Linked DNA regions of Homo sapiens: all the other regions are linked to region 4. The links come from fine-mapping of genetic effects on gene expression. A gene starts in region 4. Each other region holds a variant in brackets. All regions are shown on one strand. Distances are between the middles of the regions.

Region 1 (8,101 bases), 350 kb before region 4:
ATTCTCAAAGGACCACGAAAGCAGAAATGGTTAATATATGAAGCTGTCTATAGGCATGATAGAATAAAAAGTTTAAAAATTATTTGGGTCGGGCTTAAATAACTTTAACAGGTTAAAAAAGTGTTTGACAATATTCAACAAATAATTCTTCACCTAATTTCTTATTGAAGCAATCACCTTAATATTCATTGGCCTTGATAAATGTGAACACTGGTCATATTTATGTAAATAATGGTCATGTGGCTTTCTTGGCATATCTAAATTCATGTTAGATCTGGCTTAACCTGTGCTTATGTATGTATATGTTACAGTTATGTACATTAAATGTGTGTGTAAGAGTTGGAATTATTTGAAAGATAGCAAAATTTTAACTAGAAAAAATAAGTTAATATCTAATAATAGTTGACTTGTTGATTAAAATAAGTAGTTATTATGAAAGAGAAAAAAGGTGATTTCAAATTGATTCAGAAGAACTGGCCTAGCAACTAAGATTGTATGCTTTCCTTTTTTTAAAAAAAAAAAAAGAACGGATATAATGTTATGTGACAATTAAATACAGAAATTACAAAACTAGTTAAATTGATGTTGCCATTAAAGCAACATTAAATAGTTTTGGGGGAGAAGAAAGAAGCCGAGAAGATGGTATCTGTGCAGTTAAGATGGTCATGTCATTTGATACATGTAAACAGAAAGCAGCCTGAGGCCCACACCTGCACCATGCTGAAAGAGCTGACCAGCGTTATATGTTCAGTCCTAGATGAAGTGCTGCATTTGTTTTTTAAACACTGGTATGCATTGTTTTAAAAATGTATAAAATAACAGTGAAAAGTTAAAGAATCGTAAGAATGTAGCTAAAGGTAAAAAAATTTTGCAAAGCCATAATTTTTATGATGAAACAATGTATTTTTTATCTTTTACGTATAATGTTTTAATGCTTTTTTAGCCCAATGAAATGTGGAAGTGTTTTGTGATTTTTATCTTACTATAGTGATTGTTTTATAAACAAAGAAAAAATTAATTCAGGATTGCAGATATGGTAAACTATTAAAATAGTTTGGGTATTAAAATATGAAATAATTGGGTATTAATTCAAAATCCAAGAGTTGCCATTGAACAAACCTGTAGGCATAGGTAAGTGCTGAGGTGAAAGTGCCAACCAAAGCCGTTAGATTGAACATTTATGCCTGGAGGGAATCAGTAGAGGAACTGGCTGTGGACCTTCACCTCTGCATCCCCTTTGCTTTCTGCTGTAGCTGGGTATCACAAAAACAACAACAAAAGCCACTTATTTCTTAAAGACAGAGAAAGGATAGTTCCTTCCATTTAGGCATTCCTAAATTGCCTCCCCGGTGGCCCCTGCGCTCTTGGAGGAGGTCAAGGCAGAGCAGACCCTCAGGTGGGTGAGCGATGCACTTGACCCTGAGGACATCAGGTACCAGGCCCACTAGCCCCCGCAGGCGCGGAGCTGCGGCTGCAGCCACCAGCCTAGACGTGGCGCGCCCGCAGCAAGTGGCTGGACACCGCAGACCAGGCCCGCGTCCCCAGCAGCGCGGATCCCGGGGCCAGCCGCCCAGGCAGCAAAGTCAGGCGGTCGGCTTCGCCAGCAGCCGATGAGTCTCATCCTGTGGATTGCCCAGCGCCAGGGATCAGGATCCGGAGAGGTGTCCAGGAGGAGCAGACCCTCAGACCAGGTAGGCTGTGCACTCGGTGACCCTGACGCCATCCAAGGGAAGCTCCGCCATCCCGCGCCAGTGCCTGAGCTGCAACTGCAAACTGCGCGTCCTGGCACGAGCAGCGGTGGGGGCGGGTGGGGGAAGGAGCGAGTGACTCTCCAGGCGTCTTCCGCTACCTGACACCAGCCAGGCAGCCCCCAGGGCCAGAGCGTCAGCGCCGAAGCCAGGCTCATCCGGGAAGCCACTCCGGTGGCCGCGGGGTGCCCATGCCAGCACCAGATCTCTCTTCGGAAGGAGGAGCGGGGCGGGCTACACGGCCAGGCGGGCCCTCCCCTTAAGGCGGGGTGGGCCGCGCGCCTGCGATTTTCCGTCCGTGGTCCTGGGGCAGCCCGGGCCAGCCAGGAGAACCCGCGAGCCCAGCGGCGCCTGCACCTGCGGCTTCCGGGAGCCGGGCGGCTTTGCGAGGCTCACTAGGTCTGAGAGGTCGGAGGCCGCCAGTGTCGCTGCTGAAGGGTGGACCAGGCGGGATCGCGGATTCTGGGCTAGATCGCAGACTTGGTATCGCGGATTGGGATTTGGATCGGGGATTTTGAGTTGGATCACGGATTGGGGGTTGGATCGCGGATTGGGGGTTGGATCGCGGATTGGGGGTTGGATCGCGGATTGGGGGTTGGATCGCGGATTGGGAGTTGGATCGCGGATTGGGGGTTGGATCGCGGATTGGGGGTTGGATCGCGGATTGGGGTTTGGATCGCGGATTGGAGGTTGGATCGCGGATTGGGGGTTGGATAGGGGATTTGGAGTTGGATTGGGGATTTGGGGCTGGGTGTGGGGCGAGGGGGAGTGAAAAGGTGACACGGAGCTGCCGCGGCTCAGGAGCCAGTGGTTGGGGGTCTGAGAAGAACTCACCACCTTGAAGAAGTTCTTCGGCTTTGGGAGCCGCAGGGGCCGGCGGTCCGGGGCTCCCTAGGCCACGTCTACAGGGGTTCGGGGTACCGAATCGGAAGATCCACAGGGCGCTGTCAAGGGCGAAGCCGCGGAAGTGGAGCGCTGCCTGGAGCGCAGGAGCAGAGACCTGGAAGCCGGGGACAGGCAGCACAGGCAGTGGGGTGGGGGCTCAGCCCAGGGTGGGAGGGGGTCCCCAGGCCCGGCTTCCCCGCAGCCCCTGGGATGGGGCCTCGGAGGGCACCCTCAGAGGGGTGGTGCCAAACGGAGCCTCAGCTGCTCTGCATCCCCCATAATTCCCCAGCTGGAGCGCTTGGTGGAGAATGTGAGTGATTTAACTCACCAAGCTAAGCATACACAGTGTTATTTTTAACCTACACGTTTAAAACATGGTGTTATACACATTATAGGAGGTGCCTAATGAGAGAACTCATTCCTCTATCAAAAAATACCGTGAGTCGGCCGGGCGCGGTGGCTCAGGCCTGTAATCCTAGCACTTTGGGAGGCCGAGGCGGGCGGATCACCAGGTCAAGAGATCGAGACCATCCTGGCTAACACGGTGAAACCCCGTCTCTACTAAAAATACAAAAAAAAAAAAAAAAGATTAGCCGGGCGTGGTGGCGGGCGCCTGTAGTCCCAGCTACTCGGGAGGCTGAGGCAGGAGAATGGCGTGAACCCGGGAGGCGCAGCTTGCAGTGAGCCGAGATGGTGCCACTGCACTCCAGCCTTGGCAACAGAGTGAGACTCCATCTCCAAAAAGAAAAACAAACAAACAAACAAAAAACCGTGAGTCATTTTCAGTAGCGAAAAGCTCTCACCTAAAACTGTCCGTTTTACATCCGTATCCACCTGTGTAGATCGGTTCTTTACTGAAGGTTCTTAGAAGGAAACTTGGAAGTGGGAGGTGGGTTCTGTGTTCCTGAATGGGAAGACACATTTTTCTCAAAATGTGAGCTCTTTCTGTGATTATCAATTTTACATAAGCCGAATGAAAAAATCAAGGTTTTAACATTTTTGCATGACACCTACTGTCTTTTACTATTGTAATGACATTTGTAAAAATTTTAGGGCTGGGCGCGGTGGCTCACGCCTGTAATCCCCGCACTTTGGGAGGCCGAGGTGGGCGGATCACGAGGTCAGGAGATTGAGATTGAGACCATCCTGGCAAACACGGTGAAACCCTGTCTGTACTAAAAATACAAAAAAAAAAAAAAAAAATAGCCGGGCGTGGTGGTGGGCGCCCATAGTCCCAGCTACTCCGGAGGCTGAGGCAGGAGAATGCTGTGAACCCGGGAGGGGGAGCTTGCAGTGAGCCGCCATCCAGAAGTGCTGGGATTACAGGTGTGAGCCACCGCGCCCGGCCTGAAAAGTGCATCTTCATTTTACAGGGAATTCTTTCAAATCAAATAATCAAAAACTGTAAAAGGGGGCAAAGTACTTTTTTGCAGATCTACAAGTTTCTTATGTAAATAGGAAAAAAAGCCTTTGCTTTTCTGGTATAAGAATTTAAATTAAAAGAGGAATGAAACTGTTTTCTATCCACAATGTGTGAGGATGTTTTTTATACTGCTGCCTGAAGTTTAAGTTGCTGATTACTTTTTAAATAGATAATTTGGTGGTAAGTACTATATTTTAAAAATGCGTATGCCCGTTACCCTTCAATTCCATTATACTAAAATACCCTTGGGAAATAGAGATACATGCACTTTGTTTTTCACAGCACTTATTTTAAAAAGAACCCATAGAATGGATCTTATAAGTAAATTTCAGTTGCATCCATAGGATGCAATAATATGTGACCATCAAAGGTGACAATAGATATAGAAGTACGTTGATGTGCGAAGATGTATTTTGTTTTAGCCAGCGAGGAAAAAAGAATCAGTTTGATTATACATTTACCAAACATTAAGAATTTAATATGGTAACTTTTATTTCAGTATTAAAATAGCAATTTTATTTATTACTTTTTTATATACAGAATTCGACACCAAATTTTGGAACTTAAAAAGAAGATTCTTAAAACTTACAATCCAGGTAAGACTTCTGATAGTGAATTTCTCATTTCTCATGGTGGTCCTACTCTTGGTTTAAAAAAATTAAGATGTAAGATTAAGGTAGTTTTGAAGGAAAAGAAAAGTTTAAAAAGATGTGTAAATTGCATGTATATATACATATATACATACATGTAAATTAGTTTCTTATATTTAACTTCTTTAGTTTGGAATTAAGAGTTATTTAAGAAGGTAGTTGTAGCTGATTTATAATCTCAAACAGTATTATCTGAAAAAAAAAATCATTTACTTAATTATGATCC[T/C]GAAAATCCTATATAATATTTATGTTTTCTCTATAGTCACATTGTAACAAATTGGACTTGTTATACATATGGATCTTCTAGTTCATTTTTGTAATAAGTTGTTTATTTTTATAATAAATTGTTTATATTTAGTAAATACATAATTACACTTGACCCATGAATAATGTGGGGGTTAGGGGCTCTGATTCCAGTGCAGCTGAAAATCTAAGTATAACTTTTGATTTTCCCAATTTAGCTACTAATAGCCCACTATTGACTGGAAGCCTTCCTGATAACATAAACGGTCGATTAATACCTATTTTATTTGTGCTGCATTATTATATACTGTGTTCTTACAATAAAGTAAGCTAGACAAGTGAAGCTGTTAGAAAGAAAATCTGCAGGAAAAATATATTGACTTTTCATAAAGCGTAAATGGATCCTCACAAAGGTCTTCATCTTTATCATCTTCAGGTTGTTCAGGCTGAGAAGGAAGAGAGGTTGGTCTTGCTGTCTCTGGGTTGCAGAGGCAGAAGAAAATCTGCATATAAATGAACTCCTGCAGTTCAAACCCTTGCTGTTCAAGGGTGAACTGTATTACCTGTTAATTTGTGTCACTAAGGAAGTATCTTTAGAACCGGGAACTCAACAATCCCTTTCTCGTAGAATAAATAAATGGCAGTAAGAACTGTAAAAGTGAACCAGTGTGCACCCATACGAATAGGAGATTATTGTTTGAAGATACCTACTGAGTGCAGAAAACAGAAAAGCAATTCCTTTGTGAGAAGCACAAGTTATGTTACATATTCTTACATAAGCAAAATGGTTTTATCTGTCATAGTTTACACACACACGTGCACATACACACATGTGCGTTCGGGTGCGCACACACACACATGCACACAAAGTTAAAAGTCCTGCTGATTGTTAATGACCAAATCCACTGCTTGCAGGGAGTAGTGGATAACACAGCCTACAGCTTGGATGCAATTCTTTTGGCTTTTTGACTTGTTCTGTGATGAACTGCCTTGAATGGGTCAACCATGTTTTAGTCTTATGAGAAATGAAAAGATTAGGGGCAAGTAAAAGGAACTCTATGATCAGTAGTTATACTATTATACTATATTCAATGGTTATGTTTTTTTCCAGTTATACAAGTTACTTGAATGATGCACAATTAATTTATTATCATTATTATAAGAGATGGGCTCTCTCTATGTTGCCCAGGCTAGAATATTGTGTCTATTCAGTGGTACAGTCATAGCTCACTGTAGCCTGGAACTTCTGGGCTCAAGCAGTCGTCCCACCTCATCCTCCTGAGTAGCTGGGATTGTAGCTATGTGTAGTTACATCTAGCTGGATACACAATCATTTGTTTATTTATTTATTCATTTTTATTATTATTATTTTTTGAGACAGGTCCCCCTCTGTTGCCAGTACTGGAGTGCAGTGGTGGGATCTATCTTGGCTCCCTGCAACTTCTGCTTTCTGGCCTTAAATGATTCTTTCACCTCAGCCTCCCGAGTAGCTGGGACTACAGGCATGCCCCACCACGCTTGGCTAATTTTCCTTTTAAGGTTTTTTTTTCCTCACTATATTGCCCAGGCTGGTCTGGAAGTCTGGAACTTCTGGGCTCAAGTGATCCTCCTGCTTCGGCCTCCCAAAATGCTAGGATTTTACGGATGTGAGCCACCACACCTGGCCTGCACAATTATTATAAAAAGGAATTAAGCCCAGTTGAGTTGCAGAAAATTGACCACCTTTTCATTTTTTGTTTCTAGAAACATTCATATTGTAGAACATATTGTCAATCATCAAGATTCCCTATTTTTTATTCTGGTAAAACTAGGATTGCTGCTTATTTCCCATTATTTTCTAACAATTGCTTCACTTATTTCTTTTATGGCTTTAATCAGTTGAGTATAGAAATACAAGAACCTCCAAGTCAAATATCAAGGAAAGAAAAGAAAAACAGATTAGGGAAAGTTATTCTGTGAAATAACCATCTGATTATAGGTCATGTCAACTTAATAAAAACCTTATATAATGCATTTGTGACAAGGGTTCCCAAGACCACCCCCAGGTTTGGTGATTCACTAGAAGGACTCACAGGATTCAGCAAATAATCATATTCAGATCTTTAATTGATTACAATGAAAGGGTACAAGCAAAATGAGAGGGAAAAGGTGCATGTGGTGGTCAAGTCTGGAGGAAACCAGGCACAAGCTTCCAGAAGTTCTCTCCTGTGGAGTTCCCAGGATCTGCTTAATTCCCCCAGCCTCACATTTTGACAACCCATGTGCAGTGATGTCTACCAGTACCAGAATCTCATTAGAGACTCAGTACCCAAGTGTTTTTTATGGAGGTTACTCTCCCTCACATGTACCCACATTCCGACCTTCAGAAGGAAAGCAGCTGCTCAGAAGTAACCGCATTGTTTCTATAAACACTTTAGACACAGTGACCAGTCTTAGGGCATGGTGGGAACCCTCCCAATTCCAATTTCCTAAACAACAGCCAAGGGCCAGGCTTGCATGCGGGTCTTTCTGAGGACGGCAGTCTCTCTCCTGCTATATGAAATCTTTCCTGCACAACAGTTTTAGCCCCAACTTAACTTTTGGTGCTGTTTTAAAATTTCATTTTAACAGCAAATAATATTATAAGATAAGGTAACCTGGTGCTAGTTTCTGTTGCATGATCCATCCTGTGTTGCAATGCTGGCTACCTTTTTGACTTCTGGTGACTCACAGGTATTTGAATGGAAGTTACCATAGCAATATTAAGCAATTATAATCTGTCCTTCTTATCTCTTTAACCTTTCAGTGAAAGTGTTAAATTGAATAAGCATAATAATTTCTGAGTTAAAATTAGAATAAAAATGGTCTTTTATTTTGATTATGTGAATCTAGTTTTCATGTCGTGCTAAATCCCTGTTTAGAGTTATGAAATAAGATATTCAATCATTTTATCAATATTTTCTTGCCTAAGCTTGCAATTGAATCTATTTGTTTTATGTATTTTCTATACTGCGATTTGAGAAATCATGCCCACATGCTGTTACTTTGGTCTTTAATGATCTCCAATTTTTAGGGTTACCACTGTGTCCTGCTTAAATATATCATAATAACAGATTCAGTGAATATCTTTTATTTTTTATTTTTGTTCTGGAAATCCTGGGATGCATAGACAA
Region 2 (8,096 bases), 29 kb after region 4:
TGTTGCTCTAAAGGAATGCCCAAGACTGCATAATTTATAAAGAACAGAGGGTTATTAGGCTCACGGTTCTGCAGGCTGTACAAGAAGCATGGCACCAGCATCTGCCTCTGATGAGGGCCTCAGGAAGTTTCCACTTATGACAAAAGGTGAAGGGGAACAGGCTTGTGCAGATAACATGGAGAGAGAAGAGGCAAGAGAGAGGGGAGGAGGTGCCATGCTCTTTTCAACAATCAGTTATCTTGAGAGCTAAGAGTGAGACCTGCCTCCCTCCCACAAGAACAGCATCAAGTTATTAATGAGGGATCCACCCCTATCACCCAAGCACCTCCCACATGGCCCCACCTCCAACATAGGGGATCAAACTTCAACATGAGACTTGGCGGAGCCAAACAAACCATATTCAAACAATAGTAGTTCAGGAGGCGAAATGGGATTTTCCAACAGTCGTTATTTCTGGCAGGATGAACAAGAACAGACAGCTATGAAAGTCCCAACATTACATGAGCATGTGGGTTCCTGGGAATGCAGGATACGTGGGTGACCTAGAGTCAGTGAATGGCCGCTTGGCTGTATTTTGAATTCAGGCCCACTTAGCCACTCAGGATCCATCTTGAAGGACTGGCTCTTTCAGGGTTCACACTCCCATCTCTTAATGGCCAAAAATTTGCCCCACGGGCCATTACTTCCCCTGCACTTCTGGGTCACATGTGGGTAGGCGCTGCGCTGGTCCATGGTGTCTCCTGCTCCAGTAGCAATAGAAAAGCTCCAGGGCGGGAGTCAAAGCCTGTAGTGCACATGCAAGTGACATGCTGTTGCACTGGGTCTGTGCAAGCTGGTCACCACGGAGGTGGCCAGACAGAATCCATCCAAGTAGAACTGATCAGCACAGAAGTGGCTGGGGGTGCAACAAGTGACCAAGGGCCTTGGAGATAGGTAAGACTGCAAAGATCTCAGGTGAAATGTAAGAGATGTTGGATGCAGTCCCTCCCTTGCACTGCTCACTCCCTCCCGTTATATCCAGTCCTACAGTTCTCCACGACTGTAGGAACAAAATGCCCTCATTCCTTCCAAGAGGGACGGTAGGAGTCCAAACATTCATAAAAATCCCTTTTCATTTAGTAGCCAGCAACAATCTACAAAGACTTAAGGTGAGCTAGCTGGTGAAACAAACTAAGCTCTCTGCAGCTGCAACTGGTCCCAAGGCTGTAAGTGATAATCGTCATCTCCTTCCTCCATTACTCATTCGGCATTTCCCTCACCCTTGGCTAGTACTTTGGTTGGCCTGATGCTTTTCCAGCCTGGGCAATCCAGACTTTTATTTTGGAAGGGTCTCAGCCTTTAATTACCTTCCCTTGTCAGGCTGTGGTTGTGGCAATTGCTTGTTTTCCGTTATCACTGGGTGTGGAAGTGACAAAAGATGTCCCAGTAAGTCCCCTGAGCTCCAGACACACTCCTGACTCTGTGGTGTATAACAGCAACCCTGGCCCCTCATTGTAAACAGGGGGATTACCCTGCTGGTCTGACAACTCCTCCACTCGCAGGTTTACGGCATGAGGTGTCCAAAGTGTCCAGGTGGTCATCGCAGCAAGCAGTTCAATGGAAACTACACTGTCTCCTGGGAAACATGCCCTCCCAACCAGGCAGAGGCTAAGATTGTAGGGACAATTTAAATGCAAATGGGTTATTTAAACCATCTGTAAGTAGGTCTGTTGCTTTTCCTCCCTTTCCCATTCTGCCAGCTCAGGTGTTATTTAAACTTGTTCACAGTTCACAAATCACGCAATTTTTTACAAACAGATTTTTTTTTTTTTAGAGTCTCGCTCTGTTGCCCAGGCTGGAGTGCAGTGGCGCGATCTTGGCTCACTGCAAGCTCAGCCTCTGATTTACTTTGCTTATTATTTTTTATAGACACAGAGGTCTCACTGTGTTGCCAAGGCTGGTCTTCTGGGCTTAAGCAATCCTCTTACCCTGGGTGGAATTTTTAAATCCACTTTGGATTAAAATATAAACTGGGTTTGGTGGTGCAGACCTGTTAGACCAAGCTACTTCAAAGGCTGAGGCACAAAGATCGCTTGAGTTCTGGAGTGTGAGACCAGCCTGGGCAACATGGTGAAACCCCATCTCTACAAAAAGTACAAGAATTAGCCTGCTGTGAGCAATCCCATTACTGGGTGTATACCCAAAGGAATATAAATCATTCTGCTATAAAGACATATGCACACGTATGTTCATTGCAGCACTATTTATAATAGCAAAGACGTGGATGCCCATCAATGATTGAATAAAGAAAATGTGGAACATATACACTATGGAATACTATGCAGCTATAAAAAAGGATGAGATCATGTCCTTTGCAGGGACATGGATGAAGCTGGAAGCCATCATCCTCAGCAAACTAACAGAGGAACAGAAAACCAAACACCACATGTTCTTACTCGTAAGTGGGAGTTAAACAATGAGAACATGTAAACACAGGGAGGGGAAAAACACACACGGGGCTTGTCTGGAGGTAGGGGGAAAGGGGAGGGACAGCATTAGGACAAATACCTAATGCATGCGGGGCTTAAACCTAGAGGATGGGTTGATAGGTGCAGCAAACCACCATGGCACATATATACCTATGTAACAAACCTGCACGTTCTGCACATGTATCCTGGAACATAAAGTAAAATAAAATAAAATAATAAAATCAAAGAATTAGCCTGGTGTGGTGGTGTGTGCCTGTAGTCTCAGCTACTTGGGAGGCTGAGGTGAGAGGATCGCTTGCACCCTGGAGGTCGAGGCTGCGGTGAGCCATGATCATGCCACTATACTCTGGCCTGAGCAACAGAGGGAGGCCCTGTCTCAAAAAAAAAAAAAGAAAAGAAAAGAGAAAAGAAAATAAAAGAGGAAAAAAAAAAAAAGAAAAGAAGGCCAGGCACAGTGGCTCACGCCTATAACACCAGCACTTTGGGAGGCCAAGGCGGGTGGATCACCTGAGGTCAGGAGTTTAAGAGCAGCCTGGCCAACCTGGAGAAGCCCATCTCTACTTAAAAATACAAAAATTAGCCGGGCTTGTTGGCATGTGCCTTTAATCCCAGCTACTTGGGAGGCTGAGGTAGGAGAATCGCTTTAACCTAGGTGGCAGAGGTTGCAGTGGGCCGAGATAGTGCCACTGCACTCCAGCCTGGGTGACAGAGCAAGAATCTGTCTCAAAAAAAAAAAAAAAAAGTAGGCTGGGTGTGGTGGGTCACGCCC[G/A]TAATCCCAAGCACTTTGGGAGGCTGAGGCAGGCAGATAACGAGGTCAGGAGATGGAGACCATCCTGGCTAATATGGTGAAACCCCGTCTCTACTAAAAATACAAAAAAATTAGCCGGGTGTGGTGGCGGGCGCCTGTAGTCCCAGTTACTTGGGAGGCTGAGGCAGGAGAATGGTGTGAACCCAGGAAGCGGAGCTTGCAGTGAGCCAAGATTGCACCACAGCACTCCAGCCTGGGCTACAAGAGCAAGACTCCGTCTCAAAAAATAAAATAAAATAAAATAAAATATAAATATAAATAAAAAAAAGAAAAGGCAAGCCAATAACTGGTAACACTTTTCACACTCTTCATCTTGAACTTATCAAAAAAAAGTTTGAGTTTCTTCCCAGGTCTGCTTCTTCCATGGCAAACAGAGGCTATGAGGCTTCTTCCAATTCTGGTTGACTTGCAGAGTAATTTTCTTGAAATTGACACCTTTTTTTGAATTGAATTAGTTCACACCTTTTTCTTTTTTTCTTTTTGTGACGGAGTTTCACTCTTATCTTCCAAGCTGGAGTGCAATGGCGTGATCTCGACTCACTGCAACCGCCGCCTCCCAGGTTCAAGTGATTCTCCTGCCTCAGCCTCCCAAGTAGCTGGGATTACAGGTGCGGGCCACCATCCCTGGCTAATTTTTCTATTTTTCATAGAGACGGGGTTTTACCATGTTGTCCAGGCTGGTCTTGAACTCCTGACCTCAGATGATCCACCCACCTCGGCCTTCCAAAGGGCTGAGATGACAGGCATGAGCCACCGCGCCTGGCCAACACCATTTTTAAATGGGGGGATTTCACATGGAAATCCAAATGTGTAGAGTTTTTCTTTTCAAATTAGCATATTTTACTTTTTAAGGTGTACAATGTGATGTTTTTCAAATAAAATGTATCATGTAGGACATGATGTTTTGAAATATGTGTACTTTGTGGAATGGCTAAATCAAGCTGATGAACATATGCATCACCTCACATTTTTTTGGGGGGGTGAGAATGTCTGTGCTCTGAAAAAAAAATGGGCAGTTCCGGCAATACATGGAAGCCATCCTCCACAGCTAAAAGGCAGAAACCGTCTGTTTTTTGTTTTGTTTTGTTTTTGTTTGTTTTTTTGAGACAGGGTCTTGCTCTGTTACCCAGGCTGGAGTGCAGTCATGACTATGGCTCACTGCAACCTCTGCCTCCCGGGTTTAAGTGATCATCCCTGCCTCAGCATCCTAACTAGGTAGAACTGCAGATGCGTACTAACACACTCAGCTAACTTTTTTTTTTTTTTTGAGACAGAGTCTCGCTCTGTTGCCCAGGCTGGAGTGCAGTGGCACGATCTCGGCTCACCGCAACCTCTGCTTCCCAGGTTCAAGCGATTCTCCTGCCTCGGCCTGGGACTACAGGCATCTGCCACCATGCCTGGCTAATTTTTTTTTATTTTTAGTAGGGACAGGGTTTCACTGTGTTAGCCAGAATGGTCTTGATCTCCTGACCTCAAGATCTGCCCGCCTCAGCCTCCCAAAGTGCTAGGATTACAGGTGTGAGCCACCGTGCCCGGCCCACACTTGGCTAATTAAAAAAAAAAAAAAAAATTGGTAGAGGCAGTCTCACTATATTGCCTAGGCTGGTCCCCAACTCCTAGGCTCAAACAATCCTCCCACCTTGGCCTCCCAGAATGCTGGGATTACAGGCATGAACCACCGCGTCTGGCCAAAAACCACCTTTGGACAGGGAATGGACACTCCGGCTTTTCATATTTTGTCCCCACACGGAGACACATTAAAGTAGAGTTTTAAACAAATGAATTATTTCTTGTAACCTAATCTTTATTGAAAGAAGAAAACAGGGCCAGGTGCGATGGCTCACGTCTGTAATCCCAGCACTTTGGGAGGCCGAGGCGGGCGGATCCCGAGGTCAGGAGATCGTAGACCATCCTGGCTAAGACGGTGATACCCCATCTCTACTAAAAATACAAAAAAAAAATTAGCCGGGCATGGTGGCAGGCACCTGTAAGCCTCAGCTACTCAGGAGGCTGAGGCAGGAGAATGGCATGAACCCAGGAGGCAGAGCTTGCAGTGAGCCAAGATCAGGCCACTGCACTACAGCCTGGGCGATAGAGCAAGACTCCGTCTCAAAGAAAAGAAAGAAAGAAAGAAGAAAACAGAAAGATAGAAAAAGAAAGTGTAACTTTCTTTGAGGAAGTGAAGAAATATTCAATGGTGTTTCATATAACTACAAATTAGGTCTGTTGAAAGAATATGTTACCCAGGCTGGAATGCAGTGGTGTGATCACAGCATACAACAGCCTTGAACTCATGGCCTCAAGTGGTCCTCTCACCTCAGCCTCCCGAGTAGCTGGGACTACAGGCATTTGCCACCATGCCTGCTGGCAAGTATATATCTTAAGTGAGAATTACACAATTCCTGAGGACATCTGACTTTGCCAACCCTCATTTAGTTTATCTGAACCCAACGTTATTGGTGAGATTGAACAACACTGAGTTTCCTTTGAGCTTTGAGCTGCTGTAATAAATTCTCTATAGAGTAGCAGCTATCTGCTTCCGATTTTACCTTCGGGGGTTTTTACTTAATTGACATATTATTTATTTATTTATTTATTTTTGAGACGGAGTCTCACTCCGTCGCCCAGGCTGGAGTACAGTGGGGCAATCTCAGTTCACTGCAACCTCCGCCTCCCAGATTCAAGCGATTCTCCTGCCTCAGCCTCCCGAGTAGCTAGGACTACAGGCGTGCGCCACCAACCCTGGCTAATTTTTGTATTTTTAGTAGAGACAGGGTTTCGCCATGTTGGCCAGGCCAGTTTCGAACTCCTGACCTCAAGTGATCCGCCCGCCTCGGCCACCCAAAGCGCTGGGATTACAGGCGTGAGCCACAGAGCCCGGCCGACACCATTTTTAAACGGAAAGATTTCATATGCAGATCCAAATTTGCAGGGTTTTTGTTTTGTTTTGTTTTGTTTTTCCAATTAGCACTTTTTGGGGGTTGTGTTTTAGGGCGTACCATGTGCTGTTTTTCCAGGACGTCGTGGTTTGTGCAGACCTGGTAAGACCTGATAAGTCCTGAAAGAAGTAGCCAAAATTTCATGTACTCTTCACAGAACCAGCTCTCAAAGCCTTTTCTGTCTCACCGGATCAACCCTGCAAGGGGACGAGGGTGGGGCGCAGGCGGCCGAGAGCCTTGCTGAGAATCACACAGGTGGTCAGTGGAAAAGCGTGTACCAGACCCAGGCCTCTCTGGAAGGTGGGCAGAGGAGGCGTTCGGCGGGAGAGGTGGAAATGAAAACGGGAAATCTAAAGAGAGGTGGCGGACTAGAAGGGGCAAGGGACGTGCAGAGGAAGATAGAGATTGAGGGGTGGTGATAGGGTAGTGTAAGCAGCAGAAGGGAAGGGCAGGGGACTGCCTCGAGGAGAAGGGGCGGCGGCAGCACGTCAGGGGCTTTTGGGGAATCTCATTCAACAAATGGCAAAATGGAGCCCAAGTGGTTTGCCCAAGGATGTCCAGCAGTTGGCAAGGTGGCAACTAGAACCCGCGTCTCCTAATCCCGGTCCAGGGATCTTTCTTCGCCTGTCACAGAGACAAGGGGCCAGTGCAGCGCTAGTGCGGAGAGACAAGGCTCCAGGCACGGAAAAGCAGATGCCGGGCCGGGGTTCCAGCGCCGCAGTCACGGCGGTGGACGGCAAGCTGTGCGGACGACTGGGGGCGCCATGAATGGTCGAGGATCCGGGGAGCCGAGTCCAGATCTTCCTGCAAGTGACCCCGAAGCGGCAATGGAACGGTGGCCGAAGTCTGCCCACAGCTTCCGCTTCGAAGGCGGCGTCGGAAATGCCGCGCCAGTATCCAGAGCCCTTCGGAACCTCCCGAGAGATGGTCAGGAGCTTTTGGAAACTTTAGGTCAGGGGCCAGCGACCAAAAGGCTGGTATTTCGGAACGGCTGCGTCTCCCGAGAAACCTCCAAGAGTATCTGAGGTTGCCGGAAAATGGTTAGAGAGCAGCCGAAATCAGCCGAATGCCATTCGGGATGCTCCGGAGCTTCTCGAGGCACATTCGGGCCCTCTCGGCTCTGCAAGACTGCACTGGAATCTTAGGTCTCCTTTCGTCGCCTAATCTTAGCAGATCCTTTCGTCGCCTAAATGGTAAGAGCGACTTGTACCGACAGTCCCTCGGCAATTTCCGGAAGTGTTCGGGATAGGCCCGAGCGTGGCGCCCTCTGGCGGCGGCCAGAGGTGGCGGGGGGCGGGGGGAGGTTAGTGGGCCAGCGCGCGCAGACGCAGTTGCGCGCCGGCGGCCGTTCAGACCGGATGTGGTTGTGGCTGAGGTCAGTTCCGGCGGGTGACGGTGCGGACGGGTCAGGAGCGTAGAGGCGGCGGCAAAATGGCGGCGCCTGAGGAGCGGGATCTAACCCAGGAGCAGACAGAGAAGCTGCTGCAGTTTCAGGTAGCAGCGAGTACTCGGTGCAGCAGATGCCTCCGTGGGATGGGGAGTAGGCCCCTAGAGGAGTTCAGAACCCTCCTCAGATTGGGTTCAGATCCTTCTCAGACCAGCAGGCCGGCCCCCTCCCCCCCAGACTCCAACTGCCCTGATTCCCCCGGCCCCCAAGCCTCTGTTGGACCCTAGCCTTCCAGCCATCGCTGCGGGCAGACCCGCCTCGTCTGTGCCTCTGTGCCCTCAGCGTGTCAGCTTCCCTGGTTTGCCTTAGCGGCGTCAGTCCTCAGCCATCCTTCCCAGCCCGGTTATCGGTCGGACCCTCTCCGCCCAACGAGTCTATATCTGCCGGAGAAGCTTAGTCCCCACCGCGGAGTTGGCGTCATTTCGGGTCTCTGA
Region 3 (8,106 bases), 290 kb before region 4:
TTGAAGGTCGTCTCTATCAATTTGAGGTTGGAAAGAACAGTTTTGTTGACATCCTTTAGCTGTGTTACAAGTACAATTTTGTTTTTTACTCAGGCAAAAGAAAATGTGTGTGTGTGTTAAATACAGTCAGCCCTCTTTATCTGTGGGTCCTGCATCCTTGCTTTCTACCAACCTCAGATCAAAAATATTCCAGAAAAAAAAGGATGGTTGCATCTGTACTGAATATGTACAAGCTTTTTTTCTTGTCATTCTTTATGCAATAAAGTATAACAACCATTTACGTTGCATTTCCATTGTATTAGGTATTGTGGGTAATCTAGAGATGATTTGAAGGATATTGGAGGGTGTGTCCAGGCTGCAGGCAAGTACTATGGCATTTTATGTCAGGGACACCTACAGATTTTTGTCTCCAGCCATGGTTCCTGTATAGTTTAACATTTCCACACGCTGAGGGTGTGATGGGTCTGAGTTGGGTTGGTCCCCCATGTTTGAGGAAGTGTGCCCATCATGATTGTACACCCTTGTTGTAAACTTCGGATATGTCTATTTTGATATTTAAAACATTTTCAGGTTAAGTCTGAAAAATGCCAAGATAGTAACAATATTTTAAAAGGGAATTCAGAAGTATTACTATAATAATAGAACTCATTATTAGAACATTCTAATAGTAGAAAAGGAAGTCTATTTATTTTATAAAATTGTCAGTTCAGCTTAAGATCTAATAGTCTTTTCCAATTAGCAGCAACTTAATTGAGACTACCTCAAAAGAAGAATTTAACATTTATTTTTGTAGAAAAAAAGCAATTTTAAAATAGCCTGGGAAAACTTAGGTAAGTTTTCCTTAATCCTGACTCCTAATTTGTGGCTAGAAGTGGCAATGATATGAACATAAGTTGTGCTATTTGTTAATATATTGCTTTTCATAAATCAATCCCTTTTTTGTAATTAGGTAAAAAGAGAAGAGAAAGACATTCTTGATTTTGGTGACTAGAGTTGTAGATGCTGGAAGCTTTGCCACTAACATTGATGAACCAGATGCATGTCACCAGCCCATCACGGTGATTCTTAATGCCGTTAAGTATGAACATACAGTAAAAGACTGTTGATAGAATACATCGGTCTTATGAAATGAAATGTGTTGGTTAAGGATTTTTTAAACGAATTTCACATTACACAACTGGCTTTACTAAATCTGAGTCTTGTATTTCTGAACAGGGCACCATGGGCCCGGCACTGCCACGTTTTCCAAGGAACCTGCCGGAGCTCCTGCGGAAGCTGCTCCTCAGGCGATGGAGTCCCTTCGCTGGTAGGCCCTTCTTCAGTCACCACAGGATGCCTGCCATTCATGAACAAGAAGGAGAGGACGGGCTTTGAATAAAAAACAGGTAAGTTTCCAAACTGCTTTTTTTCATCAAGATTTCAATCTTGGCTGGGCAAAGTGGCTCACGCCTGTAATCTCAGCATTTTGGGAGACCAAGGCGGGCAGATCATGAGGTCAGGAGATAGAGACCATCCTGGCCAACATCATCTCCTCAGCACCCAGCTCAGTCATTTAGACAAAGAAAATATGTAAGATGACCGAGCACGGTTGCTCACGCCTGTAATCCCAGCACTTTGGGAGGCTGAGGTGGGCGGATCACGAGGTCAGGAGGTCAGGAGATCGAGACCGTCCTGGCTAACACGGTGAAACCCCATCTCTACTAAAAATACAAAAAAAAAAAAAAATTAGCTGGGCATGGTGGCAGGCACCTCTAGTCCCAGCTACTCGGGAGGCTGAGGCAGGAGAATGACGTGAAGCCAGGAGGCGGAGCTTGCAGTGAGCTGAGATCGTGCTACTGCACTCCAGCCTAGGCAACAGAGCGAGACTCCTTCTCAAAAAAAAAAAGAAAAGAAAGAAAAAGAAAACACGTAAGAAATAGTTGCCAAAATAATTGAATACAGGATCTTCAACTGAGATTATTTTCTTTGTTAGGATCCAGGAAATATTTGTGAGGCCATTTGGACTTCAGTGTGAAATGGTGTTAAAAGATGAAGTCATTTATTCAAGAAGTAAACCTCTGCCACCTGGACTGTGCGCAGACATTTCATTGATTTTGTTTAATAAACATTTTCTGGCTTTGGGAGGTGTCTCTCTTGGTAGAACACAGTGTCAAAGATGGACAAGATGGACACATAGTCCATTATTTGGTATTGTTTGTGTATGGGAGCAGACCACAAATTAATGTTTGGAGAACAATTTTGTCATAACACACTGTTGAGGCTCAGTTGTACAGAACTGGAAAAGTCTTCAGCTTGGCACATGTCCTGATTCAGCCTTTGTTTAACATATATTCCAATCCGGATTCTATCTTCACTGGCTACAAAGACCACCTGATACGTGCACCACGACACAGGAGCTGCTGGAGAGGGGGTAGTGTTATCACCTCAAACCCACAGCCATATTTTTCAAAAGCCAGCTTAGAGAGAGGTGTACTGATAGCTGCATAGAGAACATGCAGTCCATCCATTCTTCCCAGTGATGTACATTTCTCAATCAGTAACCACGTGGTATACCAGCCTTGAGTGTCACATCTCCCAACCATACCAAATGGATCACCTAACTGGAGGTGGGGGGGGCCCTCAGAAATGAGATTTCGTATTTACTGTAAAATTGCCTTATTTTTTCTTTTGAGGTGGAGTCTCACTCTGTTGCCTGGGCTGGAGTGCAATGGTGTGATCACTGCTCACTGCAACCTCCGCCTCCTGGGTTCAAGCAGTTCTCCTGCCTCAGCCTCCCAAGTAGCTGCAATTACAGGTGCATGCCACCACTCCCAGCAAATTTTTATATTTTTAGTGGAGACAGGGTTTCACCATGTTGACCAGGCTGGTCTCAAACTCCTGACCTCAGGTGATCTGCCCACCTTGGCCTCCCAAAGTTCTGGGATTAAAGGTACGAGCCACCGCAACTGGCTGAGAATCTTTTTATTTGCTGATTTGTCTCTTGTGTATTTTCTTTGTTCAGATGTCTCTTCAGATCTTTTTCTCACTTTTAAATTGTTTTTTAATTGTTAAGAATTTTCTGTCTAGTTTAGATATAAGCCCTTTATCAGACATGTGTTTTGCAAATATTTTCTCCTAGTCTGTGGCTTGTATTCTGTCTCTTAACACTCATTTTATTTTTACTTTTGGAACTAAAGAAGAAGAATGGTCAGCTTTCCATTATTCTTGTAACAGTAATGGCAGAACCAAGTCTGCTAATGCTACACTGAGCAAAGAAAGTCACCTGGTGAAGTCCAACATTAATGAAATGGGGTAGTACATGCAGGCAGCGTTGGGGGTGGGGAGGGAACAAATGCTTCTTGAGAGTAATATAATCTGCCATACCATCCAGGAACCTACAATGGCTATCTATTACCTTATTCTCTGGTTTGTTTAATGTTCGAATCTTTCCGAAAGATCCTTCAACCTTTCTGGAAGAATCTAATCTGATAACACCATCAAAAACACATTACTTCTTTTGGCATAATTTAAATTGTAAGACATCATTCACATTTATCAATGTTACATATATAAGAACTCACCCACCATATTCTTCCTTGAGGAATTACAGCATGTAATTCTATAATCATTTTTATAATCGTCTAACAATTTTATAATGGATTGGTTGCTTACTATCAATTTTTTAAAAGTCATGGCTTCTCCAGTCATTTCTTGCTTATCGAAATTATTTCATGAGATGGGTCTCTCCTTGTATATTTGAAAATGAGGTTTGCTTCCTTCTACTTAAAAAACAACTTGAACATACCTGTTTGGATCACATGGTCTTGTCCTGATAACTTGGAAGAGGTTGCTTCAGCATTGTTCTTATTGTTGTGGTGGTTATTATTAATATTGTTTCATATTCTGTTTAAAAAATTAAAATTTTACACAAGACCAATGTCTTCTTTTCAATTCCAGTACATTTTTCAGAAGTAACTAATGCTATTGGCTTTGTGCATTGTAATTTCAGACCATTTTATATGTCTTTAGTTATATGTACAGTATACACACATATGTGTCATATTATTCCATTTTTTCTAGCATTAAACATTGCTATGGAAAACTCTCGGAAAAATATTTATTTGAACAGAACTTTTTCTTTTCTCAGATGTACCCTCCTTAGGAATCTTTCTTTGATCCTTGAAGTTTGGTAACAACTTTAAATATGTGTATCCCAGCTGGGAGCAGCGGCTCACACCTGTAATTTCAGCACTTTGGGAGGCCGAGGAGGGTGGATCACCTGAGGTCAGGAGTTTGCCTGGCCAACATGGTGAAACCCCGTCTTTACTGAAAATACAAAAAGTTAGCCAGGTGTGGTGGCTGGCACCTGTAATCCCAGCTACATGGGAGGCTGAGGCAGGAGAATCGCTTGAACCTATAGAGACAAGGTTTCACCATGTTGACCAGGCTGGTCTC[G/A]AACTCCTGACCTCAGGTGATCCACCCACCTCAGCCTCCCAAAATGCTGGGATTACAGGCATGAGCCATTGCACCCAGCCATACAGGAGCAAGTTTAAAAATTAAATATTTATTTGAATAACAAGCTTACATTGGAGCTGCAATGTTGGCAATCCAGATTTTGAACACGGATCACAAAAAGCATGCATAAAATCCTACTGGCCCAGAGAACAAAACACTGCTCAGAATTAAGCGAAATAGCTGCTACTGTTAAGAAAACAGGCCTGAAATCAATATACAAGATTTTAAAAAATGTATTGGCCGGATGCAGTGGCTCATTCCTGTAATTCCAGAACTTTGGGAGGCCAAGACAGGAGAATCACCTGAGGTCAGGAGTTCAAGACCAGCCTGGCCAACATGGTGAAACTCCATCTCTACTAAAAATAAAAAATTAGCTGGGTGTGGTGACACATGCCTGTAGTCCCAGCTACCTGGGAGGCTGAGGCAGAATAATTTCTCGAACCCAGGAGGAGGAGGTTGCAGTGAGCCGAGATCATGCTATTGCACTCCAGCCTGGGCTACAGGTGAGACTCCGTCTCAGGGAAAAAAAAAAAAGGTATTAAACACTACCATATACAGAACAATCTTTGTTATTGACTATATTTAAAAATCATTTTGCACAGTTAATTATATATTGCAAATGAGCATAATACATGAACTTCATTTTGGAAGGCAATTCCTTGTTACACTAAAAAACATCTAATTTCAGCTGGGCGCGGTGGCTCATGCCTGTAATTCCAGCACTTTGGGAGGCCAAGATAGGCAGATCAACTGAGGTCAGGAGTTGGAGACCAGCCTGCCGAACATGGCGAAAACCTGTCACTATAAAAATTAGCCGGGCATGGTGGCAGGTGCCTGCAGTCCCAGCTCCTTAGCGAGGCTGAGGCAGGAGAATCGCTTGAACCCGGGAGGCAGAGGTGGCAGTGAGCTGAGATTGTGCCACCGCACTCTGGCCCGAGCAACAAGAGCAAAACTTGGTCAAAAAAAAAAAAACAAAAAAAAAAACCAGCCGGGCGCAGTGGCTGACGCCTGTAATCCCAGCACTTTGGGAGGCCGAGGCGGGTGAATCACGAGGTCAGGAGTTTGAGACTAGCCTGGCAAACATGGTGAAACCCCATCTCTTCTAAAAATACAAAAAATTAGCTGGGTGTAGTGGCGGACGCCTGTAATCCCAGCTATTCGGGAGGCTGAGGCAGGAGAATCGCTTGAACCTGGAAGGTGGAGGTTGCCGTGAGCCGAGATCGCGCCATTGCACTCCAGCCCTGGCAACAGAGTGAGACTTCATCTCGGAAAAAAAAAAAAATCCTAATTACATCACTTTGCAAATAATCTCGTCTTTGCTGTCAATAAATAGTTAATAGTATTACTGTAAATATCAGGAAGACTACAAAAAAAAAGATTCCTTTTTGTCTTCAAAGTGTTTTTTACGCAGTGAAGCAGTTACTGTGTTGAACAGAATGCAGTACTAGAAAATGTCCTGGGTGTGAGATGCTCTTGAGTGACAAAACTAGGCTTTTCTTTCTTTTTCTTTTTTTTTTTTTTTTTTTGAGACGGAGTCTCACTCTCTCACCAGGCTGGGGTGCAGTGGTGCAATCTCGGCTCACTGCAACCTCTGCCCCCTGGGTTCAAGTGATTCTCCTGCCCCAGCCTCCCGAGTCGCTGGGACTACAGGCACCCACCACCACTCCCGGCTAAATTTTGTGTTTTTAGTAGAGACGGGGTTTCACCATGTTGGCCAGGATGGTCTCGATCTCTTGACCTCGTGATCCACCTCCCTGGGCTTCCCAAAGTGCTAGGATTACAGGCGTGAGCCACTGAGCCGGGTCCAAGACTAGGCTTTTCAAATCAAAGACAAAGGAATCATGCAACCCTCTTACAATTGGGATACCATCCTGTGCCACTTGCCAATACTGTCTTTCCAGAAAACCATTCAAGACACTAAAAAAAGATCAGACATATGATAAACATACATAAAATGAAAAGACACCAACTGCTATTTGACACTACTATTGGTAATGCCTGACATATGTGAAAGCACTTTTATTTTATTTTTTATTTTGAGACTGAGTTTCGCTCTTGTTGCCCAGGCTGGAGTGCAATGGCATGATCTCTGCTCACCGCAACCTCCGCCTCCCGGGTTCAAGCAATTCTCCTACTTCAGCCTCCCGAGTAGCTGGGATTACAGGCATGTGCCACCATGCCTGGCTACTTTTCTGTATTTTTAGTAGAGACAGAGTTTCTCCATGTTGGTCAGGCTGGTCTTGAACTCACAACCTCCGGTGATCTGCCTGCCTCGGCCTCCCATAGTGCTGGGATTACAGGCATGAGCCACCATGCCTGCCCATGAAAGCACTTTTAAAAAGAGAGCACCTCTGCTGCCTGGTCATATTCTGTACCTGTTCCCAAACCCTGAAACCAGTGATGTCAATGGCTGCGTGGGCATTGAACGTGTACATGATTCCTGCAGCTTTCCTGTTGACCTGGACCATGTTCATCAATGCTTTTTGGTACATTAATTCTACATCTTCTTCGGTGACCACAGTTTATGTTTATTTCATTTTTCAGGAATATCCAGCCACTGGTGCACAGCCATTGCCACTTGTGCCCCCAGGGGATCTTGTCAACTCCAGTATGTCCCCCCAGCACTGTGTTATCTGGCATAATAAATGTAGTTGGGCTGTAGTTGTAGTGACTCCTCCCAAAACAACCCAGGAGTTTAATACTGTTTGGCCACCGGTTACAGACATTGCTGCCCCTTCCGCTGCGGCTTTAAAAGCCTATCTAATCGGCTGGGTGTGATGGTGGCTCAGACCTATAATCCCAGCACTTTGGGAGTCCAAGGTGGGTGGATCACCTGAGGTCAGGAGTTTGAGACCGGCCTGGCCAACATGGTGAAACCCCATCTCTACTAAAAATACAGCAAATTAGCTGGGCGTGGTGGCGCATGACTGTAATCCCAGCTACTCGGGAGGCTGAGGTAGGAGAATTGCTTGGGTGGCAGAGTAAGACTCCGTCCCAAAAAAAAAAGTTATCTAATCAGGGACGTCACCTTTCCCTGCCAGTCATTTTGTTACCAATGAAAGAAAACATATTCAAATCAATTTTTAGTTCAGAAAATGTTTCTTTCATTGTATCTTTGAATTTTATTGTTCTGCATTTTTTACTTCAAAAACACCTACTATATGCATTTTTTCTCTCGTTTCCTTTTTTTTCCAAGAAATGTTTTTGTCCTTTTGATTTTTTCACTGACCATTACCATTATTTATATACCATGTACCTGGAGAGTTTCCAATGTTTCTCTTTGGTCTGAGATACTTGCTATGATTTTCACTTTTTAAATGCTCTTTTGAGATTTGTTTTGTGGCCTAAAATGTGGTCTATCCTGGAGAATGTTCTGTGAGCTGATGAGAAGAATGCACGTTCTGCAGTTGGTGGGTGAAATGTTCTGTAATTACCTGTGAGGTCCCTTTGACTTCTCTTGGAGTCAGTCTGGTCTGTTACTTTTCTGCCTAGAGGGTGTGTCTGTTGCTGAAAGTGGGTGTTGGAGTCCCCAGCTATTATTGTCTGTCTCTGTCTGTTGCTCGAATAACTCTTACTTTAATAACTGGGGCTCCTGTGTCAGGTGTGTTTACA
Region 4 (8,106 bases):
TTTCATCCATGATGAGGCCCACCTACAACAGTCCCTGGAACATAACAAGGACTCAATAAATATTTGCCAGATAAGTACATCTAACCCTGGAACATGAGGATCTCTACAATCTGGCCCTGCCCATTCCTGACTCACTTCCCACCAGCCCATCCCACAAACCCTAAATTCTGGTTTCCTCCTTCTCCAAACACACCACCCTCATCCCCATGCTTTCTTCCTGCTTCCCTCTCTAAAGAATGCTTTTTTGGGCCGGGCGTGGTGGCTTATGCCTGTAATCCCAGCACTTTGGGAGGCTGAGGTGGGCAGATCACGAAGTCAGGAGATCGAGACCATCCTGGCTAACACGGTGAAACCCCGTCTCTACTAAAAATACAAAAAATTAGCCAGGCGTGGTGGCAGGCGCCTGTAGTCCCAGCCACTCGGGAGGCTGAGGCAGGAGAATGGTGTGAACCCGGGAGGCGGAGCTTGCAGTGAGCCGAGATCCCGCCACTGCACTCCAGCCTGGGCGACAGAGTGAGACTCATCTCAAAAAAAAAAAAAAAAAAAGAATGCTTTTTTGGCTCCATTTATTCTCCAAGGTCCAGCTCATAAGTCACCTCCTCTGGGAAGCCCTCCTCTGCTTCCTTTACTTCCCTAGGCACTTACGGAAGGTCTCACTTCCGGGGTATCCCAGGATATCATACAGTATCCTGCACCCTCTTGTGCAATTACTCATGACCCCCAGGGTCCGTGTGTACCCCCTTACCAGGCTCCGTGTCCTATTCAGCTCCTCAGGGCTCCAGCACGGAATGGGTGAGCAGTAACTATTGGCTAAATGGAAGTTGAATTGTTGTTTTGAGGCCTGCTGTTATCTGCAAGGCTCTCAGAAACTGCTGTGCCTCCTAGCAAAAAGCCATGGAGGCCACATGAGGTTAATAGGCAGATGGACAAATAGCCCTTCACCAGCCAGACAGGGCTGTGAGCAGCGACAGTGTGTTTGGCCTGGGGACTCAAGGGAAGGGTACTTAATCCCATGGAAATAATCCCCGGGTGACATAAATCATAATTGACTTTGCTTTCAGAGTCAACCAGTGATTGATTCCAACCAACTCTGTCAGCTGTCACTCCCATTCCTTCAGATAAGGCTTCTCCTGCATGGGTGTCCTGGCCCCTAAATCACAGTGGGACCAATAGCATTTCAGTGGCAGCATCTTCTGCAAAGGGGCTTCTTCTGCTGGGGTGTCTCCTCTAGCAGGGCCTCACGTTACCAGGGTCTATTCCCTGTGATGCCGGTCTGTACATTTGGCCTTCTCGAGAATTTGCACCACCCTACTCCGCCCTGACCAACCCCAGTCTCAGACCCCACATCTACACACAGCTGCCTGGGGTCTACCCTGACCTTCAGAAAGTCTCTCTGCCTCAGCCTCGAGAGTGTTCCTCTGGACATGCAGTTTCGGCCTCCTTAAGAGTCCACACACACCTACACAGCATTCCAAGTACCTGTTCCCACAGTGCTCTCCACCCACCCACTGCCCATCTACCACCGGGAGTCCACACTCACAGGCCAGCAGAACAGGACTGAGACAGAGACACGTCCCAGGGATAAACCCCTGAGGGTTTGCTTCCCTCAGCTGCCTGACCCATTTTGGAACAAGGGCAGAGAGGGTCCAGAACATTCCTGTGAGCTTACGAGGCCCAGCGGGGGAAATGGGCTTGCCCAGAACTGACAGGCAAGTCAGAGCCAGGCCTGGTGCTCAGAAAACTGGGTGTGAAAATGGAAACCTACCCAAGGCTGATGAATGGAAACAAAGTGTCCATCATCCAGATCACCCAGGGCCACAGATCCAGCCAGAGAGGAGGGGCTCCCTGTGGCTCCAGCACAGGCCTACACCAGATACCTCTTTCCCCAGGGGCAACTGAGCCCAGTGTCAGCACAGAGATTGCTAATCTGAGGACCCCAACATCTAAGAGAAGGTGCCTCAGAGGTACTGACTGGCGGCCGCTGCTAAGCCAGCTTTTGCCCAGCTCTCAGCAGGCCAGGGCGCTTTTTCTCTGCCCCATCCAGGCTCCTGGCACACATCCCTGGTCAGGGGAAGATTACCTGTTCAGCACTGCATAGGCTGAGAAGGTCAGATCAATTCTAGCCCATCTGGCCATCCACTGAGCCGCCATCCCTCAACACCTCCCTGCTCCCCGATCCAACTAAGGAGGGCAGCTGAGCCTTTGCAGAGTCAGCAGGTATGCGCCTGGGAGACCCTCAGAAGGCTGTATCCCCGGCACCTCCCTGGAAGAAGCGAGCGTGTCATTGTTTCTCTCCCTGTCACCTCTGGTCTGAGGCCAATTTGTGCCCCACCCCTGCCAAGGACAGAACTTGCCATCCAGACTGTAAGTCCCTGGAGCCCCACCATCCTGGGAGAGGCCACAACCTGCTCAGCTCCCTCAGGCATCTGGCTGCCCTCAGCCTGAATCCCATCTTTTCTCTCCTGAGGTTCTCACAATGGCTCCCCTCAGCAGGACCTCCCCACAAGGCCTCCCTCCTCTTCCCTGCACCCCGACCCCAACAGGCCCCAGTGAGCCAGACTGAGGAAAAGGGTGGTCTCACAGAGGTGTGGTCCAGTGAATACTGGTGCATTAACTGGGGCAGGCATTTCTTAGGAATTCCCTGGGACACGGCAGATTCTGTATTGAGGTGCTGGAAGCTTCCACTTCAGAAGCCCTCCATTGCTGTCTCAGATAGGTGGCAAAAGACCCCATGCTTCTCACCCCACATCCTATCTCCTGCCAGGGAGGTGACTGCTATAGAATCTTTTTTTTTTTTTTTTTGAGACAGGGTCTCACTCTGCTGCCCAGGCTGGAGTACAGAGACGTGATCACAGCACACGGCGACCTACCTACACCTCCCGGGCTCAAGCTATGCTCCTGCCTCAGCCTTCCCGAGCAGCTGGAACTACAACTACAGCTACATGCCACCATGCCTGGCTAATTTTTGTATGTTTTGTAGAGATGGGGTTTCACCATGTTGCCCAGGCTCCACAGCATTTGAAAGAGCATGGAGCCCAGAGTTGGGAGGCGTGGGATCAAGTCCTAGATTGGTCATTCCTGGCTGTGTGACTCTGGGCAAGATACTCAGATTCTCTGGGCCACCGGTTTCTTGCATGTTACAAAAGCCTGGTTACATTTCTCATATCAAGGAGATACAGAGTTGCTTCAAACTCCTCAGCCACAGGAACTGTCTTATTCATTTCTGTATCCCCAGCGTCCTGACACACAGTAGGTGCTCAGTAAACGTTGAATGGATACAAACATGACTGTGAAGAGCCTTGTAAACATCATTAACCAAAATATGTCTATATGTATATATGTTAGCACTTACTACAACAGGCCCATAAACCTTTCCAAAATGACATCAACAGGAAGTAAAACCTGTTTTGGATGTACCCATGAAGGTGATATCTACTTTTTTACTAAATATTTTACAAAATCATTCTTGCTAGCCAGAACCAGGGCAGAAACATCATTGATAAAGATGATTTCACAGGGACTAGGCCCTGAACACTGAGGTCTGAAGCCAATCACAGTAAATCATAATAGCCCCGGACCACCTTTGGAAAACCATTAAGTCGACAACTACAAAACCCTGAAGGGCCCTACCGCATCTGACTGATGCCTCTTTGTGGCCCACACTCCGGTGTCTAACTCAGAGCCAGACACTTGGTAGGCAGTGTGGTCAGGTGGAGAGGGCTTCAAGTCCGACAGGAACAGGTTTAAATTCACGGCCAGGTGTGGTGACTCACACCTGTAATCCCAACACTTTAGGAGGCAGAGGTGGGAGGATTGCTTGAGCCCAGGAGCTCAAGACCAGTCTGGGCAACATAGCGAGACCCCATCTCAAAAAAAGGAAAAGAAAAAATATATATGTAAAAGAAAAAGAAACAGGTTTAAATTCTTGATCTGCCACTTACTAGTTATTTCAATAGCATACTCCCTTGAGCCTCAGTTTTACCATCTCTGAAATGGGTTCAATCACGTGTATGAAGTGATTAAATGTAACCAAGGCGCTTAGCCCAGCGACTGCCGAATGCCAGGCGGTCACCGGGGAAGGTTAGTGAGTTCCTGGAGCACCCAGGATCCTCTTTTTTCCCAGCTGCAGGAGAGAGCTAAGCCTGAGGGGCCAGGAGGGCTGTGTTCTGCCCACACCTGCACACTTAGCTGGGAGCCTGGGACACCCAGGCTATTAGGAGGCTCAGGAGGGACTCTCAAAACTGAGGTGGGGTTGGATTCCAGAGCCGGGCAGTGGGGAAGCTGGCCTGGGGATGAAATGTCATGACCGAATTCCTGTCCCGGGAGTCACCAGATCCACAGCCCCAGGCGAGGCCTCATCCCCAGCTCGGAAGTCCTACATGGAGATCTCCAAGAAGATTCTTCCCCACGTCTCCCAGCTCCTGCCCCGGGTGGCCTAGAGCAGGCTCTCTTCCCTGTGCCCCTGGGCCCCGGCCGGGGTCCCCCGGGTGCGCGCCCTGAGCCCCTCTCCAGGCCCCGCGCTGACTCACCCCCACTCGTGGGGCCCGGCTGCGCGGGGGCCGCATGGCTGCCGGCAGGTGCCCCGAAGCCCTCGTCGTTCTCTATGCCTGCAATCTCGCTCTCCTGCTGGGCCAGGAAGGCGGCCGCCGGGTCCTCCTCCGCCGCCTCCGGGGCACCGCTCTCCGACGACGAGAAGAAGCCAAAGTCATCAGCCATTTTCCCCGCGCCTCCGCCGGAGCCTCCGCTGCGCTCGGCTCTGCCCGCGCCTGCCCCGCGCTGCGTCCGGCGGCCGCGACGCTGTCACCCGAGCCGCGGGGGAGCCGGCGTCGGCGGGGACGGGCTTGGCGCGGACCGCACTTCCTCTCCGCCACCGGGCCCGGCTGGCTGTCACTGCGGTGCGGGCGCCGCGGCGGGAGGAGCGGAGCCGGAATGCGGTGACGTCACCGCGGGGGCGGGGCCGCAGGGCCGGGAGGTCGCCGAGCAGCGGCCGCAGGAGGGCGCCTCAGGACTGGGCGCAGCGCTGGGCCCGGGACCGGCGCGGCGCTTCCCTCCCTCCGCAGCGGCGCCCAGCTGCTCGCGTCGAGGACACCTGGGCTAGGCACTGCTCCCGCCCGGCCTGGAGGCGAAACGCAGGGCACAGAGTGGCCGTACCGTGCACAGAGCTGCGACAGGAGGCCACCTCTGGCCTCGGGAGCGCAGACCTGGCTCCTGATTCATTCTGCAGAAGTTTCTTCTCCTAGGTTGGGATGTCATGCACCTCATTCTATGAGCCTCCGCCTCTGTAAGAAGAGGAAAATTGAGGCTGGGAAAGGCTGCCCCGCACCTTTTCATGCAAGTCCAGGTCCTTTCCCACTAGGCCGTGTTGTTTTGTGTATTTTTTTGTGTATCTCCCTTGAGGAGGCTTCAGTTCATACGACCAGAGTTTGGATGGCCAGCTAGGCCCCTTAAATGTCCTTTAGGTATGAACCAGCCTGAGAAAGGCAGACCTGGTTTACCCAGGCAGCCTACCACTCTCCACGCTGCCCGCTGCCCTCTGTGAACAGGCTCTGAATGCCTCCTCCCTGCCTGCGCTTTGCCAAGCACCAGGACAGCAACGTTTTATAAAATCCAGCCATGGCCATGCGGAGATTACAATCCGGTGAGACCAACAGATGGCAAATGGCCTGTCAAAGCACTGTGTGTGAGGCGCTGTGACATTTAAACACGGGGTATAGGGAGACGATGCAAAGAAACACCATGGGATTTGGGCTGTCTGCTATTTCTAATGTGGGACTTGAAAGGCAACTATGAAATATGGACTGGAAGAGCGAAAGGAAAGATGTGCCGCCAAGTTGGGGGTGGAAGTGGAGTTGGGGTGAAGGGACCTTCCAGGTGTTTTTTTTTTTTTCTTTTTAATTTTTTTATTTAGAGACAGGGCCTCGCTATATTAACTGGGCTGGTCTTGAACTGCTGGCCTCAGGGGATCCTCCTGCCTTGGTCTCCCAAAACACTGGGATTACATGTGTGAGCTACCAAGCCCAGCTGGAACTTTCAGTTTAATTGGTAACAACTTGAGCACCTTTTGATGTTACTGTTTTTGGGGGGGTTTTTATTGTTTTATTTAATTAAATTAATGTATTTATTTATTGCTGTCCATTTGCATGGTTTTGTTGTTGTTGTTTGTTTGTTTTTTGTTTTGAGACAGGATCTTACTCTTGCCCAGGCTAGAGTGTAGTGGTACGATTATAGTTCACTACAGCTTCAACTCCTGGGCTCAAGTGATCCTCTCATCCTCAGACTTCCAAAGAGCTGGGATTACAGGCATGAGCCAACACACCTGGCCTTTTTGATGTTATTGTAAGTGGAAGTTTTATCTTCTTTTTTGATTGCGTATTGTTAATGCATAGAAATTTAACTGATTTTTGTGCATTGGCTTTGTATCCTGCTGCTTTGCTGAATTCATTTATTAGCTCTAACATTTTTTGTGTGTGGAATATTTAGGGTTTTCTGCAGATAAGAGCTTATTAGCCAGGTGCCATGGCTCATACCTGTAATCCCAGCACTTTGGGAGGTGGAAGTGGGTGGATAGATTGAGCCCAGGAGTTTGAGACCAGTCTGGACAACGTGGCAAAACCCCATCACTACTAAAACTACAAAAAATTAGCCAGACATGGTGGTATGGTGCCCGTAGTCCCAGTTACTCAGGAGGCCGAGGTGAGGGAATCACCTGAGCCCGGGAAGTCAAGGTTGCAGTGAGCTATGATTGTGTCAGAGGTGTGTGAATCAGAGCAAGTCCGTCGTAAACAGGATCTGGGTAAAATGAGGCTGAAACCTACTGGGCTGCATTCCCAGACGGTTAGGGCATTCTAAATCACAGGATGAGATAGGAGGTCAGCACAAAATACAAGTCATAAAGACCTTGCTGATAACACAGTTTGCAGTGTTGGGCAAGGTGGCCCACGCCTGTAATCCCAGCACTTTGGGAGGCCAAGGTGGGCGGATTGTGAGGTCAGGAGTTTGCGACCAGCCTGGTCAATATAGTGAAACCCCGTCTCTACTAAAAATACAAAAAATTAGCTGGGCATGGTGGCAGGTGCCTGTAATCCCAGCTACTTGGGAGGCTGAGGCAGGAGAATTGCTTGAACCCGGGAGGCGGAGGTTACAGTGAGCCGAGATCTCACCACTGCACTCCAGCCTGGGTGACAGTGCAAGACTCAGTCTCAAAAAACAAACAAACCAACAAACAACAACAACAAAAACCAGGTTGCAGTAAAGGAGCCAGCCAAAACCCACCAAAACCAAAATGGTGACAAGAGTGACCTCTGGTCATCCTCACTCCCACCAGTGCCAGGACAGTTTACAAATGCCATGGCAACATCAGGAAGTTACCCTATACGGTCTAAAAAGGGAAGGCACGAATAATCCACCCCTTGTTTAGCATTTCATCAAGAAATGGCCATGAAAATATGCAACCAGCAGTCCTTGGGGCTGCTCTGTCTATGGAGTAGCCATTCTTCTATTCCTTTACTTTCTTTTTCTTTTTTTGAGGTGGAGTCTCGCTCTGTTGCCCAGGCTGGAGTGCAGTGGTGCGATCTCGGCTCACTGCAAGCTCCACCTCCCGGGTTCACGCCATTCTCCTGCCTCAGCCTCCCAAGTAGCTGGGACTACAGGAGCCTGCCACCATGCTCAGCTAATTTTTTTTTTTTTTGTATTTTTAGTAGAGACGGGGTTTCACCCTGTTAGCCAGGATGGTCTCGATCTCTTGACTTCATGATCTGTCCACCTCGGCCTGCCAAAGTGCTGGGATTACAGGCGTGAGCCACCGTGCCCGGCCCCTCCTTTACTTTCTTAATAAACTTGTTTTCGCTTTGCACCAAGGACTCACCCTGAATTCTTTCTTGCGTGAGATCCAAGAACCCTCTCTTGGGGTCTGGATTGGGACCCCTGTCCTATAACAATCACACCACTGCGCTCCAGCCTGGGCAATGAGAGTGAGACCCTGTCTCTAAATAAATAAATAGCATCTGCAAACAGAGATACTTCTTACTTTCCAATCTGGGTTGCTTTTATTTCTTTTTCTTGCCTAATTTCTCTGGCTAGGACTTCCAGTACTATGTTGAATAGAAA

Which allele goes with the higher level. Positions count from the first base shown, and alleles are read on the strand shown. Sizes are in standard deviations (SD) of each study's normalised expression. Not every link is listed here.
With allele C in place of T in region 1, the expression in whole blood of the gene that starts at base 4,892 in region 4 is higher (small effect, 0.35 SD a copy in GTEx).

The links. PIP is the estimated chance that this variant, and not a neighbour inherited with it, causes the effect.
Region 1: its variant is fine-mapped to the expression of CLTB in whole blood (GTEx, PIP above 0.99).
Region 2: its variant is fine-mapped to the expression of CLTB in esophagus mucosa (GTEx, PIP 0.95).
Region 3: its variant is fine-mapped to the expression of CLTB in whole blood (INTERVAL, PIP above 0.99).

The regions. Positions count from the first base shown.
Region 1 is chr5:176,059,113-176,067,213 of GRCh38, forward strand. LOC100996385 (a long non-coding RNA gene) reads right to left here and starts at 2,943. Exons shown (of 3, transcript NR_103794.1): 1 at 2,583-2,943; 2 at 1,120-1,253. It also overlaps the pseudogene FAM153B. RefSeq lists an enhancer at 5,167-5,784. The variant T/C (reference allele first, on the strand shown) is at 4,933.
Region 2 is chr5:176,440,762-176,448,857 of GRCh38, forward strand. FAF2 (Fas associated factor family member 2) reads left to right here and starts at 7,624. Exons shown (of 11, transcript NM_014613.3): 1 at 7,624-7,709. The coding sequence starts at 7,647. RefSeq lists enhancers at 7,005-7,194, 7,275-7,334, 7,645-7,704 and a silencer at 7,515-7,564. The variant G/A (reference allele first, on the strand shown) is at 3,238.
Region 3 is chr5:176,123,048-176,131,153 of GRCh38, forward strand. LOC107986487 (a long non-coding RNA gene) reads right to left here. Exons shown (of 3, transcript XR_001743014.1): 3 at 3,794-3,882. It also overlaps the pseudogene FAM153B and the pseudogene SEPHS1P3. Among named protein-coding and RNA genes, the nearest start is that of SIMC1, 110 kb to the right of the region's middle. The variant G/A (reference allele first, on the strand shown) is at 4,435.
Region 4 is chr5:176,411,648-176,419,753 of GRCh38, forward strand. It overlaps CLTB (clathrin light chain B), which reads right to left and starts at 4,892. Exons shown (of 6, transcript NM_007097.5): 1 at 4,530-4,892. The coding sequence starts at 4,716. It also overlaps a transcript of ARL10 not described here. RefSeq lists silencers at 4,395-4,474, 4,585-4,684, 4,725-5,184.